Homo sapiens: one gene and its partner. Each later gene encodes a partner of the first gene's protein in a complex. Each region holds a gene or a part of one and is shown on either strand. Other genes may lie near its edges. The genes, in order: CSTF1 and CSTF3.

The links.
Region 2: the proteins of CSTF1 (region 1) and CSTF3 are in contact, whole or in part, in a crystal structure (PDB 6B3X), measured with the Homo sapiens proteins. Residues at the interface, in NP_001028693.1 of Homo sapiens: Arg118, Glu216, Ala217, His226, Pro227, Ser228, Asp230, Phe231, Thr240, Arg242, Leu243, Tyr244, Cys251, Phe252, Val253, Ser254, Cys255, Tyr270, Ser272, Ser273, Ala274, Asn275, Gly291, Val292, Ser293, Asn294; in NP_001317.1 of Homo sapiens: Tyr581, Pro582, Lys583, Pro584, Asp585, Thr586, Gln588, Met589, Ile590, Pro591, Phe592, Pro594.

The regions. Positions count from the first base shown.
Region 1 is NC_000020.11:56,387,952-56,396,051, forward strand, and holds the start of CSTF1 (cleavage stimulation factor subunit 1), read left to right. Parts: upstream 1-4,693; 5' UTR 4,694-4,762; exon of another isoform or gene 4,763-4,864; intron 4,865-7,569; 5' UTR 7,570-7,601; coding exon 7,602-7,770; intron 7,771-8,100. Other genes in the region: AURKA (aurora kinase A), read right to left, coding at 205-251, 361-457. UniProt on the Homo sapiens protein: One of the multiple factors required for polyadenylation and 3'-end cleavage of mammalian pre-mRNAs. May be responsible for the interaction of CSTF with other factors to form a stable complex on the pre-mRNA.
Region 2 is NC_000011.10:33,151,105-33,158,876, reverse strand, and holds part of CSTF3 (cleavage stimulation factor subunit 3), read left to right. Parts: intron 1-7,772. UniProt on the Homo sapiens protein: One of the multiple factors required for polyadenylation and 3'-end cleavage of mammalian pre-mRNAs.

The DNA of each region.
Region 1 (8,100 bases):
GATTATAAGACAAAGCAGAACAAAAAAGCTACTCTAAGAAGCAGCAAAATGTTACTGAACACGAGAAAAGTGACTAATTCATATCCAGGATCACAGTAAGGGATCTAAATTTAAATCCAAAGTAAAGGCGGAAAGAATTCCCGACAAGACCAACCTCCATGTGGGTTTATAAATGTGAATGAGATTACAGATTATTCAATTTACCTTAACAGGTCCTGAAATGCAGTTTTCTTTAGATCGGTCCATGATGCCTGAAAAGAAAAAGAAGAACCTTTAATTTGAACAAAGCCACCTGCTTAAAGTGCTGTTGCTCGATAGGCAGCGTTACAGTTCCCCAATCAAAAGGCCTCCACAACACACCGGATTTTACATGTTTTGTCCAAATGAAGCTAATGAGGGAGGGACAGGCATGTGCTTTCCCTGCAAGGCCAACCTCCCCTTGGGCACTGCGTCCCATCCTCTGTCACGGAGTCTTCACTCCTGATGGTCTTGCTGCTCCATCATCTCTCCTCTAATGGATCACTTCCATCCCTGTGCAGCCTACTGGCATACCTGCTACCTTAAAAAAGTCCTCTTTAGGCCGGGCATGGTGGCTTACACCTGTAATCCCAGCATTTTGGGAGGCCGAGGTGGGCGGATCACCTGAGGTCAAGAGTTCGAGACCAGCCTGGCCAACATGGTGAAACCCCGTCTCTACTAAAAATACAAAACTTAGCTGAGCGTGGTGGCAGTCACCTGTAATCCCAGCTACTCGGGAGGCTGAGGCAGGAGAATCACTTAAACCCAGGAAGCAGAGGTTGCAGTGAGCTGAGATCACACCATTGCACTCCAGCCTATGGGAAAAGAGCGAGACTTCGTCTCAAAACAATAAAATAAAATAAAAGTCCTCTTTATTCTATTATCGTTGCTAACAATGACCCCCTCCTCTCCAACAGCAAAGCTCCAGAAGAACCGTCCACACTTGCCACCTCTACTGCTCCTCTCCCCTCCCCTGAGCCCATCCCCACCTGGCTTTTTTGTCTCCACCACATTGTCAGGCTCATGGCTGACACCTACTGCTGCCAAACCCAAGGGTCAATTCCACCTTCCCCGTACTTGCATCCTCAGCAGAATCTGACAAGGTTGATCACATCTTACACTTTTTTCTTCACTTCACTTCCAGGTTTATCTACCACCTAGTCGTCCTGTCTTTCCCTCCTTGCTGGGTCAGTCTCATTTTTGCCAGATCAAGGGTCTGGGGTGACTCAAGAACGAGTCCCTGGACCCTCCACTTCTCCATCTACACCTTCACCAGGGATCCATATCACCCAGTGCCTCAGCTCTAAATGCCTTCATGAGGACCACTCAAAGTGCGTCTTCTGCCCTAGTCTCTCCTTGGACTGTCAGACTTGGATATCCAAGGATTTGCCCAGGATCTCCCAAAAATGTCTGCCAGGCACCTCAATCCTAACATATCCAAAACTGAACCTCTTCCCTTCTCCACTTCTCACCTCCCTGTTCATGGGTGTGCCCTGAGCTCAGGCCTAGAATGACTTCTCCATCTCCAATTACTCCCTAGCCGAGTACATCCAGTCTCTTTGCTTTCAGTACCATCTACAGGCTGAGGACTCCCAAATATTCATTCTTCAGCCCAGACCTCTCCCCTGAACTCTTGATCTACATTTTCTACTTTCTATGCAACATCTGCACCTGATTATCTGAGCGGCATCTCCATTCTAACATGTCCCAAACAGAAGTCCTAATCTCTCCCCACTCTCACCTCCCCAAATCTAGTCTCTAGACATCCTCATCTCAGTGCATGGCAAACCCATCCTGTCAGTTGCTCAGGCCAAAAGCCTTGGCATAATAACCCTTTACGAGGTTCTCTCTCGCAAACCCTTCATTTAATCCACCAGCATATTCTGTAGGCTCTGCCTTCAAGATCACTGCTCACCACCTCTACTACTACCACCTGGTCAAACCATTATTCTCTCTCCCTTGAGTTTTTTCCAACAGCCTCCCAATGGCCTCCCCACTTCCACCCTTACCCTGTCATGGTCCATTCTTAACACTGAGGCCGGCAATCTCATTAACAAATCAGATGTGTTGATCCTCAGTTCAGAAGACCCCCATGGCTCCCAACTCAATCAAAACAATGCAAACTCCTAACCTGCATAGACAGGCCTATTGAAGTCTCACAGAACATGGACCCTAACTACCTCTCTGACTTCATCTCCTCTTCTTGTCAACCGTGTACCAGCCACACAAGGCTTTCTTTCTGCAAATAAGTCCCCTGCCATAAGCATTTGCACTTCTTGCTCCCTTTATTACGCTTTTCCCCCAGGTGTGTAGTTCAGTCTTTCATTTCACTGAGGTTTCTTTTTTTTTTTTTTTGAGATAGAGTTTGCTCTTGTTGCCCAGGCTGGAGTGCAATGGCGCAATCTCGGCTCACCCGCAACCTCCACCTCCTGGGTTCAAGCAATTCTCCTGCCTCAGCCTCCAGAGTAGCTGGGATTACAGACATGCACCACCACGCCCAGCTGATTTTGTATTTTTAGTAGAGACAGGGTTTCTCTATGTTGGTAGGGCTGGTCTGGAACTCCCGACCTCAGGTGATCCACCCACCTCGGCCTCCGAAAATGCTGGGATTACGGGCATGAGCCACCGCGCCCGGCCTTCACTGAAGTTTCTTATCAAATATCCCCGCACTCTGGCCTGGGCAATGGAGTGAGACCCTGTCTCAAAAAAAAAAATTAAGATTACCATTTTACAATTAAGCAAATAATTCCATGATGAAGCCAGGCCCAGACTACAGGCTGCAGCCCTTATAAAAAAACAGTGGGTAAGTAAAAGTTGATAAACAGCAACAAGGAAATGCACACTTGTGTTAATCAAATATTTAATTTCACACATGCTCTAATGCTTTACTTCCCTTACAATTCTAAGTAGCAGTCTAATGAGATCACATAGGCCTAACAACATTTATTCAACATTCTTCTGACAGAAGCTACAGGCATTTGCTCCAATTTATTCTACCTTTCTTTCTAGGGAAATTGAATAACAAGCAGAATGGAATAAGATTCTAATCCAGAATTCTGGAGACAACGCCAAGGAGACTGCCCTTCAGGTGACTCTAATCTGCAACCAGATTGAAGAACCAGATGACTTTCACAGGATCCATTCAGTTCAAACCAGAAGTCCTACTATTTTGAATAGAAAAGCTGTTAGGCTAATAGCGCAGGAGGTTTATACGGTTTATTCCTTCCTCCCTCAGACCTGTGCATGTCTGCAGAGATGAAGGGAAGGACGAACTGAGTAGGTTGCTGAAAAACGTTTAATTCAAGGGACAAGGAAGGTTACGGAAGAGGAAGAGACATTACGAGAGTTAAGGACAGTGGCTACGTCTACCTCAGCCGGATGGTTCTTAGAAATGGAGACTCTGAGGCCTAACCCCAGGTCTAAAAAAACAGATTCTGCATTTTAACGTCCCCAGACGATTTGTATGCACCGGTCTGCATCCCTAGTTCTCAATGAAACCTAAGAATCATCTGGAGAGTTTGTTAATAACTAGACACCTGGGTCCTACCCCTCAGAGATTCTGATTTACCGGGCTCTCGGTGGAGCTATATGTTTAACAAGCACTGCAAGTTATCCCGGTACAACTGCTCCAAGGTCTACGGTCTGAGAAGTACGGACCGGGAAGGCCTCTGCAAGGAGGTTCTCATTCATCAATTCACCCACTCATCCAGCCAGGACAAGGGCCTTCTTAGGCTATTCTATCTAAAGCGGCCCCCGTTAAACCGCACTCCTGCTTTTCCTCTGTAACACCCACCCCAGCTGCAAGTTCTCCGTACGCTTACCGTCTGTCTCCCCACCCACTAGAACGTGAACTCCAACACAGCAGAGACCTTCTGTGCTTTTCTTACCCAGGTGATCTCGGAGGACAAAATCCAATCTGAAGCCCACCCACCCCTCCCGCGCATGTCAACACCACTCAACAAACCCCTTGTACCTCTAGCTGTAATAAGTAACAAGCAGTATCCTACAGGGCGCCTCGGTGCCCAGGAGCGGATGCAAAGGCGCTGGGCGGGCACAAGGCAGCGCCAAGGACACTCAGGGACGGAGGAACCGACAGGGGACTTGACGCTCCGCCACTCCGACCAGCCGCCCCTTGTCCCCGCCGTCCTCGTCCGCCACTGAGATATCCCCCACGGTCTACCCACCCGTCGGCTCCCACCTGCGACCCAAGGACCCAAGTCTTCCAAGAGCTCAGCCGTTAGAATTCAAAGGTTCTTCTTTTTAAATAGGAGTTAAACCCTCTAGCTAGAAAGCCGATTGGCCTGCGCTCGAGCGAGGCTGCCTTGTGATTGGTTGACAACAAACCCGACGCCTTGAGTCGCGTTTAAGGGCGCACACCGCGCGCAGGCGCACTTGCTCCCTAAGAACCCGGAAGTGGTGGAGCCAACGGCCAGCCAGACCTGTGGCAGTCCCAGCCCCAGGGTGCTCTCCGCGGTCGGCCATTTATCGGTGAAGCAACAGCCCCTTGACGTCAAGCTTGACGCATTGGAGATAAAGTCCAAGGAGGTGAACTAACCTTTGAACGTGCCAGTAAGTAAGATGGCGAGAAAAGCAAGAGAGAGTGGGACCGATCGATAGCGCAGCGGTCGGCTTGGCGCCCTTTCAGCGTGCGCAGTGAACGTGCGCTCGGAGCGGTAGATTGGGCAGGATTCGCGCCTCCATTTTTCCAGGAGAGAGCGGGATACCAAGAGAACCGGACCAGCTGGTACTGGGACACGGGGAGAGTAGCTGGTGCGGTCGGCTGGGGCATTTAGAGAAAACCACAGAAACGACTGGGGCGAGACTGGAAGAGTCGAGAGTTAGCAAGGTGGCATGCGCCTCTACTTTGCGTTTCCTAAGTTGCCCGGCTTGGCCTGCACCCCTTCCTCTTCTCGAAGGGCCTCGCTTCCATTCCCACCCAGTCCTTAGTTCGCCTCTGCATCCAGATGGTCGCGGCGCATATAGTGAGGGGGCATCTGTGTTCTAGCCTTTCCAACTGCGATGTATCCGGTCCTGGATCGGGTTCTTGTCCTCGTGTGCTCACCTGCAAATTGGGGATAATTAGGCTTCTGTTTACCTGGCGAGTGAACGTTCTGTGGGAGTTGAGAAGTTAGGGGTGGGCCACTTAAAATATATATATATATACACACACACACACATATACATATATATACACACACATATGTGTGTGTGTGTGTGTGTATGTACACCCGGGATGTGCTCAGCAGAAGTGAAGAGACCGGATAGAACAGTGGTGTAGGGGAACCAAAAATGGCTTCCCTCCATCCTTCCAGGTACCTTATTAGGACTAAGAGTTAAATTCACATAAGACGAATTAACAGATTACTGCAGGGTAAACAGGATGTGCATGTAAAGCATTGAGCTAGCATACGGAAATTATTCGAGTCATATTAACCCAACGTTAACAGTAGAATCTCTCATCAACTTTTCTTTGCCAGACTACCCACTTGTGATTTTCATTCTTTATTGGTACTTAAGAATCTCCCATTTTTTTCGGGTAACTGAACATTGTCCATGGGAGAAAAACGATATTTAATTACGTACAGGAGTCCCACAAAATACGAGACTAAAAGTTGAAGTCAGATGATTAAAGCCTACATGGCATCCTGAGCTACTGAAAGGAATGAATAGAGAATTGGGGGCGGGGGGCGGGAAGCAGCTCTAACACAAGTTATGGGACGGTGAACGGAGGAAATGTATGGTGAATCAAGTTTGTTATGCAGACAGAATAGGTGATCTTCTGGGTGGTGTCAGCCTCTAATCTCTCATGTGATCCGAGTTAATCTTCCCTGGTTTATAAGGATTCGTGACAATTGAGGTATTTTTGGAGGGTCAGACTTTAGGCAGGTAAGGAAAGCACAGGGAAAGCCTCTTCCCGCCTGCTGTTCTCCAGGTGCCCTCAGTTCAAGGTAATCAGCCCGCCAAAGCATCTTGTTTTGGGCTGGCATTTCCTGAACTCCTTCAGTGGTTAAGCTCAGGGATCTGGAGTTGGCAATTCTGGTGTGCTTTAACCTTGGACAAGTAACTCAGCCACTTTTTACGTTGAGTAGGTGTCCTGACCTCCTTGAACCCATTTCATCATCTTTATTTGTGTCCCAGGATTTTCTACTCAAGCATAGACCTACTATGTTCATGTACTACTTCATATACTTGAATACATTGAATGATTTTATTCAGTGAACTGATGCTTACAAAGTACTTAGCATGACGGTATCTGGCATGCAGGAAGTGCTTAATGTTATTGGTTATTATTAACACCATCAGTGTCATACAGTGTGTAAGAAATCAGGCTCTGGGCCAGGCGCAGTGGCTCGCGCCCGTAATCCCAGCACTTTGGGAGGCGGAGGCAGGCAGATCACCTGAGGTCAGGAGTTTCGAGACCAGCCTGGCCAATATGGTGAAACCCCGTCTCTACTAAAAATACAAAAATTAGCCTGGTGTGGTGGCGGGCGCCTGTAGTCTTAGCTACTCGGGAGGCTGAGACAGGAGAATAGCTTGAACCCAGGAGGCGGAGGTTGCAGTGAGCCGAGATCGCGCCACTGCCCTCAAGCCTGGGCGACAGAGCGAGACTCCGTCTCAAAAAGAAAAAAGAAATCAGGCTCTGAGGTCACTTTTATTCTTTATTGCTGTCCCCAGACACCTGTAGCCTTTTAATCTTGGTCCAAACATACACATACATAAAGGCATTGATTTTTGGTAAGCAAATTATCATGTTGAACAGTTGGAGTTCTTTTTTGAATAAGCCAGAAACCATTTACAGTTTTTTGTCTCTTAAGACTGAAGGAAAACTTAGACACTTGTAAGTCAGTGCATGCACAATCCTTCCCGATTATTACTGTTTTTTTTTTCATTTTTATTGTTTTGACCTTGATTGGCAATATTTTATTGGGCAGCTCACCTTTGAGCCTTTCTAACGCATTTAACTCGGTTGGAGTTTTTGTAGTACAGTTGCTTTTTTTTGCTTCATATTTTGATTTACTGTCTAATTAGATTATATAATTACAGTAACAAGCTCAGTTGCCTTAAAACAGGTTTTGAGAATGAGCATAAAAGATTAGTAAACATACAGCTCAGCTAGTGGAACCAGCAGTCTAGATCTTGACAAAATAGCAGCTATCTTGCATATTGCAGGTACCAGTCAATGTTTAATTAACAGAAGTAATGGAAGATTCTGGGATAACAATAAAGAACAAAAATCATAGGTAGCTAGTTTGGTGGAGAAGAAAAGTTGGTGAGAGATTGTACCGTAAACACTGGCTAACATGACTTGAACAATTTCTGTATGCCAGGCACTGTGCTCAGGGCTTTATATGCACCACCGTGTTTAACTTCCAGTAACTTAACAGCTGAAGAACCTCAGGCTTAGAGAAATGAGGTCACTGACCAAAGATAATGCAGCTAGTAGAGATGGGATTTGAGTCCTGCAAGATTAAGTCTGACCAAAGAGTCCTATGTTGCTTCTGTGATTTACTAGAGCCTGTACCCTTCACCGTCCATTTTCCGTTTTTGCAGCTGGCAGGGAAACTGTCTTCCTTTTCTCCAAGATGTACAGAACCAAAGTGGGCTTGAAGGACCGCCAGCAGCTCTACAAGCTGATCATTAGCCAGCTGCTATATGACGGCTACATCAGCATCGCCAATGGCCTCATCAATGAAATCAAGCCTCAGTCTGTGTGTGCACCCTCGGAGCAGCTCCTGCATCTCATCAAACTCGGTAGATTGTGAACACAAATCCATACGTCCCATGGCAAGGTTTTAGATATTTTCATATGGCAGAATTTTTCAAGATTATTCTTGTTTTGTTTCAGTACCTAGTATGAGCCGGGTACTTCAGTAAGTAAGTAGTTCAGCATGAGTTCAGGAAGTAGCTCAGTAAGTAAGGGGTAAAGCAAAGTTCAGATTATGAAGACCTTAAGCTGGTTCTGGCCTGAGGGTCTTTGTACACATTATCTGGAACACTCTGTCAGACATATTACTGACTTCCTTCAGATTTTACATCAAATGTCATCTGAGTTCTCTTAACTCCTCCTAAAATAATCCGACC
Region 2 (7,772 bases), on another chromosome or scaffold:
AACACTGCTTTTCTGGGTGTATTTGTTTTTTGTTGTTTGTTTGCTTGCTTGCTTTTGGTTTGGGGGTTGATGATGTCATTTAACTTGTCCCTTCATCTGTATTTCCTGAAAACTTTACAGTTAGGTCTATACTCAGCCTTGATATTTGGGTTAAGTATTTTTGGATAGAATACTTAACATTATATCATTACATTAGCAGGTACTTCTGCTGGGTTCTGTTAGGATGGTTAAGTTTGATCACTTGGTTTAGGGTGATCTCATTGTTAAGGGTCATGTTCCCCTTTGCAGTTAATAATCTGTGAGTTGATAACCGTTTTCTTTAAAATCACCTTATACCTAGTTATCAATTGATAAATCTTGACTAAATCAGCTCTTACATTGGAAGTAGCAAATGGTGGTTTTGTTTTGTTTTTAAAACCCACAATTCTGTTGGTCTGTGTCTGTTTACTGGCTCATACTTTCTGCAAAAAAGACTTTTTTTCTTCCTAAAGATTAAGTATCGCTATGGATTCATGGATTTCTCTTAGTGTGTTAGTATCAGTGATAGCCATTTTTCTTTTGCACACTCAACTTGTCCAAACCTTTTTGGTGGTTCTTATATCTTTTCCTTAAGTCTGAAAGGCAATTTAGACATCTGATTATCAACAAGGAAGTCATCTTCATATAGCCTTTTCTTTAACTTTTTAATAATACATTTCAAACATGTAAGAAAAACAGTATAATATATGAAGTACCTGTCATAGAGCTTCAATTTATGGCTAATCTTGTTTCCTCCATGACTTCATTTGCTTCTCTCACCCCCATTACTTCGAAGCAAATCCTAGATACTGTATTCAGCTTCAACTAAAATAACCATTAAATAACACCTTAAGGATGGAAAATATGAATGAGCTGTACCTTGCTTGATATTTAAGACAATATTGAAAATCTGGAGGAAAAGAGAGTATCCAAAATAACCTGAAATCATGGATGAGAAAAATAAACTCAATGAGACTAAAGAATAATAAGAAAAAAATTAAAACCATTGAATCATGGATTTGCTTTGGAAAAATGCCAAGGGATGGGGTGGACAAAGAGTCCTACAAGATGCAGGTGTAGATTTAGCCTTTTAGTAGCATTGAAGTTCAAGTTTGTAGAATAAACCTGATACTATCTTAAATTTATTACTAAAATATATGGATAGTCATTTTTCTCTTGGTGCTAAGATTTGTGATTTGTGCCCCCTAACAGAGGGAAATTATTGCAGACAAGCAAAATCACTGCTAAAGGTTTATTGCTGTGATTTTTTTTTCAACTCTAGTAGGGAAGTTCAATTTTGCATGTAGAGAGCTATTGGAATTACCTTATAGTGTTCAAGGATCTCTTCTGAAGCTCCTTGCTTATTGTTTTTGCCAGTTTAATGGTGAAAAAACTATTTGCATATAGGTTTACCCCCCTAACAAACATATGATTTCTGTGTGGAATTATGGCTGTATTATTTATTTCATGGTTTTGTTTTTTTGTGTTTGTTTTTTGTTTTTTTGAGATGGAGTCTTGCTCTGTTGCCCAGGCTGGAGTGCAGTGGCACGGTCTCGGCTCACTGCAACCTCCGCCTCCCAGGTTCAAGCAATTCTCCTGCCTCAGCCTCTTGAGTAGCTGGGATTACAAGCACACGCCACAATGCCCGGCTAATTTTTTTGTATTTTTAGTAGAAATGGTGTTTCACCATGTTGACCAGGCTGGTCTTGAACTCCTGACCTCAAGTGATCTGCCTGCCTCAGCCTCCCAAAGTGCTGGGATTACAGGCGTGAGCCACTGCGCCCAGCCTGTGGTGTTTGTTTTTTTTAATGCCTGATTCAACTTTTGATCTCATTCTTAGGTCTATTTAACCTTGTGCACTACTCTTAAGGCATTTAATATGCTGTTATTTAGACATTTTCCATTGGGTTTTGAACTTCTTTAGTTGAAGAGATGATGTTATTCATCTTTATGTCTTAAAGACCTAAGAAATAATATTTTGATGCTTAAAGGTATTCAGTAAATGAATGGATTAAGTTTGCATCTTTTAAAAAAAATTATTTATTTACTATTTAGGTAGAGACGAGGTCTCACTGTGTTTCCCAGGCTGGTCTTGAACTCCTGGACTTAAGTGATCCTCCTGCCTCAGCCTTCCAAACTGTTGGATTACAGGTGTGAGTCCAGCCATATTTCACCTTTTAAATAATGTATAACTTATCCTAGAATTTGGAAGGCCTAAAATACAAGCCAAATGATCCTCAGCTTGGAAAAGCTACATGATTCTAAGAAGCGCAAATTAATTGCTGGTAGTTCTTAACAAAGGAGCATTTAGGCTCATAAATACGTGTTTTTAGTGAAAAATAATTTTGGGAAGATTTAGAAAATAATGAAGAGTATGTGTCCTATTATATACTTATTATTAATAAGGAAAGAAAAAGTTGAAACACCCACAGCATTGAAACCTGAAACCTGGTTTATTTCGTTAGGTAAACATTAGTACTTAAGCTGTTTAGAAGTAACAGTATCGCCAATTTTAGTCAAGGTGCATATATGTGTAGGGGTTAGAAGAGGCAGAGAAAGAGCCAACTATGTGTGTTGGACAATGTGTTTTTTTGGATTTATTTTTTCCAAAATCTTTCTGTAACAGCCCTTCCTAGTTTTCTGCCTCCTATTTTTAGTGATGCTTGTTTGGTGTAACAGTTTTGGGCAGGCAAATTGATTTGATCTTTATTGTTGATATTTCTTAGGAAACTGGAGCATTATCAAATATTCTGTTTGGGGACAGTTGTTCCTAAGAGAAGTTGCTCTGTGCTTAAAGAATGAGAATTGGGTTTTTCTTAGAGATACAGCAGAAAGGTACTGTGTTAGGTGATACTGCATTCCTTCAACATTATTTCAGGGAATGTAGGCATTTACATCCCAGATAGACCTTCAGAAGGGCAAAATCTGTATTTGGGTGTTTTTACCTATTGGACAATTACCCATACCAATTCATGATTTTAAGCTTTTTTTTTTAAATCTTCGATTTGGTGACGGTGATTTTAAGCTTTTCTACCATGTCTCTGAATCTTTCTCTTTAGATAGGACCTACCTGTGAATTTGAGTCTTTTTGTTTTGTTTTGTTGGACAGTTGGTAATGGTGTGAGAATTGGGCTAAAAAAGGGATTTGAGTTGGCAGTTGTTTAAACTATCTTTAGATTAATGGACAACTTAGGATACATAGTAAATATTGAATAAAATCAGAAGGGCAAAGCTTCTGTGTGTCCTAATTAATGTTTTTCTAATGTTTGACTTAGTTTATTTAGTGTATTAAATCTGGATTATTCATATTTGAAAGAAGTCTCATCTTTTAAGTTCCAAACGGTTAAGATTTTAATTTATATTTTGTAGCTATTTGTTTCCTAGGGGATGAATATGCAAGTTTACTAAGCAGATAATGGTAAATATAATTATTTGAACTAATATGTTAAGCCAAGATCTTTTTTTTTTTTTTAATTTTTTTATTTTTATTTTTTCGAGACAGAGTCTTGCACTTTCGCCCAGGCTGGAGCACAGTGGCGCAATCACGGCTCGCTGCAAGCTCCGCTTCCTGGGTTCACGCTATTCTCCTACCTCAGCCTCCCTAGTAGCGGGGACTATAGGTGCCCGCCACCACGCCCTCACGCCCAGCTAATTTTTTATATTTTTAATAGAGATGGGGTTTCACTGTGTTAGCCAGGATGGTCTTGATCTCCTGACCTCATGATCCGCCCGCCTTGGCCTTCCAAAGCGCTGGGATTACAGGTGTGAGCCACCATGCCCGGCCCAAGATCTTTTTTTTTTTAAGTTTTTGAGTTGTTTGTATGTTTAGATTTTTAATCTATGGATGATTTGGAGGGATTAGTTTTGTATTGTAGGATACATGTTCAGTTTCATTCACAACAAACATGAAGTAGGGTTTGGTTGCATTGGTAAAGGAACACAGAACTAAGCTGACATCTGGTCCTAATATCCGGTCTCATTGTGACACCTGTCACATATAGTTCTTTATTATCTGGGCATATGAATGGAATCAGTTAGGTTACTCCTCTATGAAAGTCTCAGCACGGCACCGTGGCTCACGCCTGTCTGTAATCCCAGCACTTCGGGAGGCTGAGGCTGGCGGATCACTTGGTCAGGAGTTTGAGACCAGCCTGGCTAGTATGGTGAAACTCCGTCTCTACTAAAAATACAAAAATTAGCTGAGTGTGGTGGTGCATACCTGTAATCCCAGCTACTTGGGAGGCTGAGGCAGGATAATCACTTGAACCCGGGAGTCGGAGGTTGCAGTGAGCCAAGGTACAGCCACTGCACTCCAGCCTAGGTGACAGAGTGAGACTTCATCTCAAAAAAAAAAAAAAAAAAAAAAAGAAAGTCTTACGGAGTGCTACTCCGGTCTACTTTTAATTTTGAAAAAAAGTTAACCACAGAGAGAGACTTAAGACTTCAAATATATAGTATATTCAGTTTTCTTAATATTTTAGCAAAAAATTCACTTGGAATGACAGGTTTGTTGCCACCTTATTTTTAATGAAACGTGACATTTGGAAAACATTTGTGGAACAGATAGATGAGGTGGTACATATTTCTTAAAGTGGAGCCCATGGCCCATTTATGTCATAATTAGGTGCGTTATAAAAGTATAGATACGTAGACTCTGATTTCAAACCTAACTGTTCAGTGGGGCTGAGAATCTTCGTTTGAAACAGGTACCACAGTGGTTTTTATGTCAATAAAAGCTTGCAGACCACAGAGTTAGATGATAGCTGGTTGTTTTAAAATATATTCTTGATAAATAAGTGGATGAAAAAATGGCAGATATTTGAGGATGGTATTTTACTGATTTTTCCTGCCCACCTGCTCCCCACCCCCATATATTTAGTTATTACCCTGAATAGCGAGAAATACTCATTATAAAACCAGGGTTGAGGCTCAACTCTGCTTTTTCTGTTGGTCATAGTAAAAAGCTTACATCGTCTTAAATCTTTCAGTCTACCATCTTTCTCCCCCTCTATTCATACTTTTGTGTTATCACTTTAACTGATCCCTACTTTAACTTAATTTCAGTATGGCTCCTAATATAACACCCTTCTAATTTATCATGAAAGTAGCTATTTGGAGAAAGAGAATTATCTTTTTTTTTTTTTTTGTCTGTTTTACCTGCATGGTCGAAATGGAAGAAATTAGATTATTATTATTATTGTTATTATTACTATTTTTTTTAGAGATGAGATCTTGCTCTGTTGCCCAGGCTGCAGTGCATTGGCGTGGTCATAGCTCACCACAGCCTCAACGTCCTGGCCTCAAGGACTCCTCCCACCTCAGCCTCCCAAAGTGCTGAGATTACAGTTGTGACCCACTGTGCCCAGCCTTAAATTATATTATTTCAGTCATTAACATGATAGTGTCTGTCACCTCTTCACATCCCACCTTCCCATTAACAACCTCCTAATAAAAGTTATGAGCTCATATAGAAAGAAAGTGGTTAGGAGTTTCAATAAAGCATAACTCATAGGGCTTTCCAGAGGCTACATCACCTATCCACAATTGTATGTAAAGGCTGTTAAAAATGGTCTTTCCTCCCTTTTCCAACTACGTAACTGTGAGGCTAAAATTTTTTCATATTTTTCATCTAAAACAATATATTGTAACAGATTGAAAGAAGCAGATAATGTCTTCTATTCAGCCAGACATTTAAAAGATCATGAAAATGTAAAATGGTGCCATTCTTTTGACTTTTTTTTTTATTTTGGAAAATTTCCTTCAGTAAAATATTTATATTCATATTTAAGGAATTTATTATTTTTAAGTGAATTAAATACTTTAATTTTTTGTTTTAATTTCTTATGTGAGTAATGATAGAATCCCTCTGGGCTCCTCAATTATTATTGTTATTTTTTTTTTTGGAGGCGGAGTCTCACTCTTGCTCAGGCTGGAGTGCAGTGGTGCGATCCCAGCTCACTGCAACCTCCACCTCCCGGGTTCAAGCGATTCTCCTGCCTCACCTTCCCAAGTAGCTAGGACTACAGGCATGTGCCCACACCCAGCTAATTTTTTGTATTTTTAGTAGAGACAGGGTTTCACCAAATTGGCCAGGCTGGTCTCGAACTCCTGACCTTGTGATCCGCCCACCTCGGCCTCCCAAAGTGCTGAGATTACAGGCGTGAGTCACCGCGCCCGGCCCAAGCTCCTCAGTTTTTAAGAATGTGAAGCAATCCTTTACAAAATGTTTGAGAATAGTTGGAATAGTACATCATGTCTGTGAAGCCAAGATTGTAAGTTCTATTTCTCTGAGTTAGTTAGCTTCACATAACAGACGGTTAAACATGGAAAGTGGCAAGGCATCCCACAGAATAGGATACAGTTTTTGTAAATCATGTCTGATAAGGGATTTGTAACTCCAACATGTAAAAATTCATTAATGAAAAAACCCAGCCAGGTGCGGTGGTGCACGCCTGTAGTCCCAGCTATTTGGGAGGCTGAGGCAGGAGGATTGATCGAACCCAGGAGTTCAAGTCCAACCTGAGCAACATAGCAAAACTATACCTCTAAAAAGTAATAATAATACGTCCAGTTTTTATTTTATTTATTTCTATTTTTTCAAGACATAGTCTCGCTCTGTCGCCCAGGCTGGAGTGCAGCGGCACAATCTTGGCTCAGTGGAACCTCTGCCCCTCCCCGCCGGCTCAAGGGATCCTCCCACCTTAGCCTCCTGAGTAGGTGGGATTACAGGTGCCTGTCACCATGCCTGGCTAATTTTTTGTATTTTTAGTAGAGACAAGGTTTCACCATGTTGGCCAGGCTGGTCTCAAACTCCTGATAAGTCCAGTTTTTAAATGGGCAAAATATTTGAACAGACATTTCTCCAAAGAAGATGTACAAATGGCCAATAAGAAAATGAAAAGACGCTCTACTTTGATAGCCATCAGAGAAATGTAAATCAAAACCACAATGAGATATCACTTCAGACCCACAAGGATGGCTGTAATAAAAAAGATAATATCAAATGTTGGTAAGGATATGGAGAAATTAGAACCCCTTATACTGGAAATGTAAAATAGTACAGCCCCTTTAAAGTCTGGTAGTTTTTCAGAAGGTAAAACATAAGAGTTACCACATTACTTAGCCATTCCATTTCTAGGTATATATCCAAGAAAAAGGAAAACACACAAAATGAACTCCACAAAGAAATCTTACACACTAATGTTCATAGTAACATTATTCATAATAGCCAAAACTGGAAACAATCCAAAGTCCATCGGCTGATACATAAACAAATGTAGGATATGCACATAATGGAATATTGTCAAAAGTAAAGTACTTAGTATATGCAAAAACATGAACTTTGAAAACACGCTAACTGAAAGCCAAAACAACGCCAGTCATGGTGGCTCACGGTGGTAATCCCAACACTTTGAGAGGCCGAGGCAGGTGGATTGCTTGAGCCCAGGAGTTCAAGACCAGCCTGGACAATATGGCAAAACCCCATCTCTATAAATTATAAAATTTAGCTGGGCATGGTGGCACATGCCTGTAGTCCATTATCGGGAGGTCTAGGTGGGAGGATTGATTGAGCCCAGGAGGTTGAGGCTGCAGTGGGCCATGATTGTGCCACTGCATTCGAGCCTGGGTGACAGAGTGAGATCCTGTCTCAAAGAAAAAAGAAAACTAGAAACAAAAAGAACACATATTGTATGATTACATTAAATATGGGCACATCCCTAGAGACAAAATAGATTAGTAGTTGCCCAGGGCTT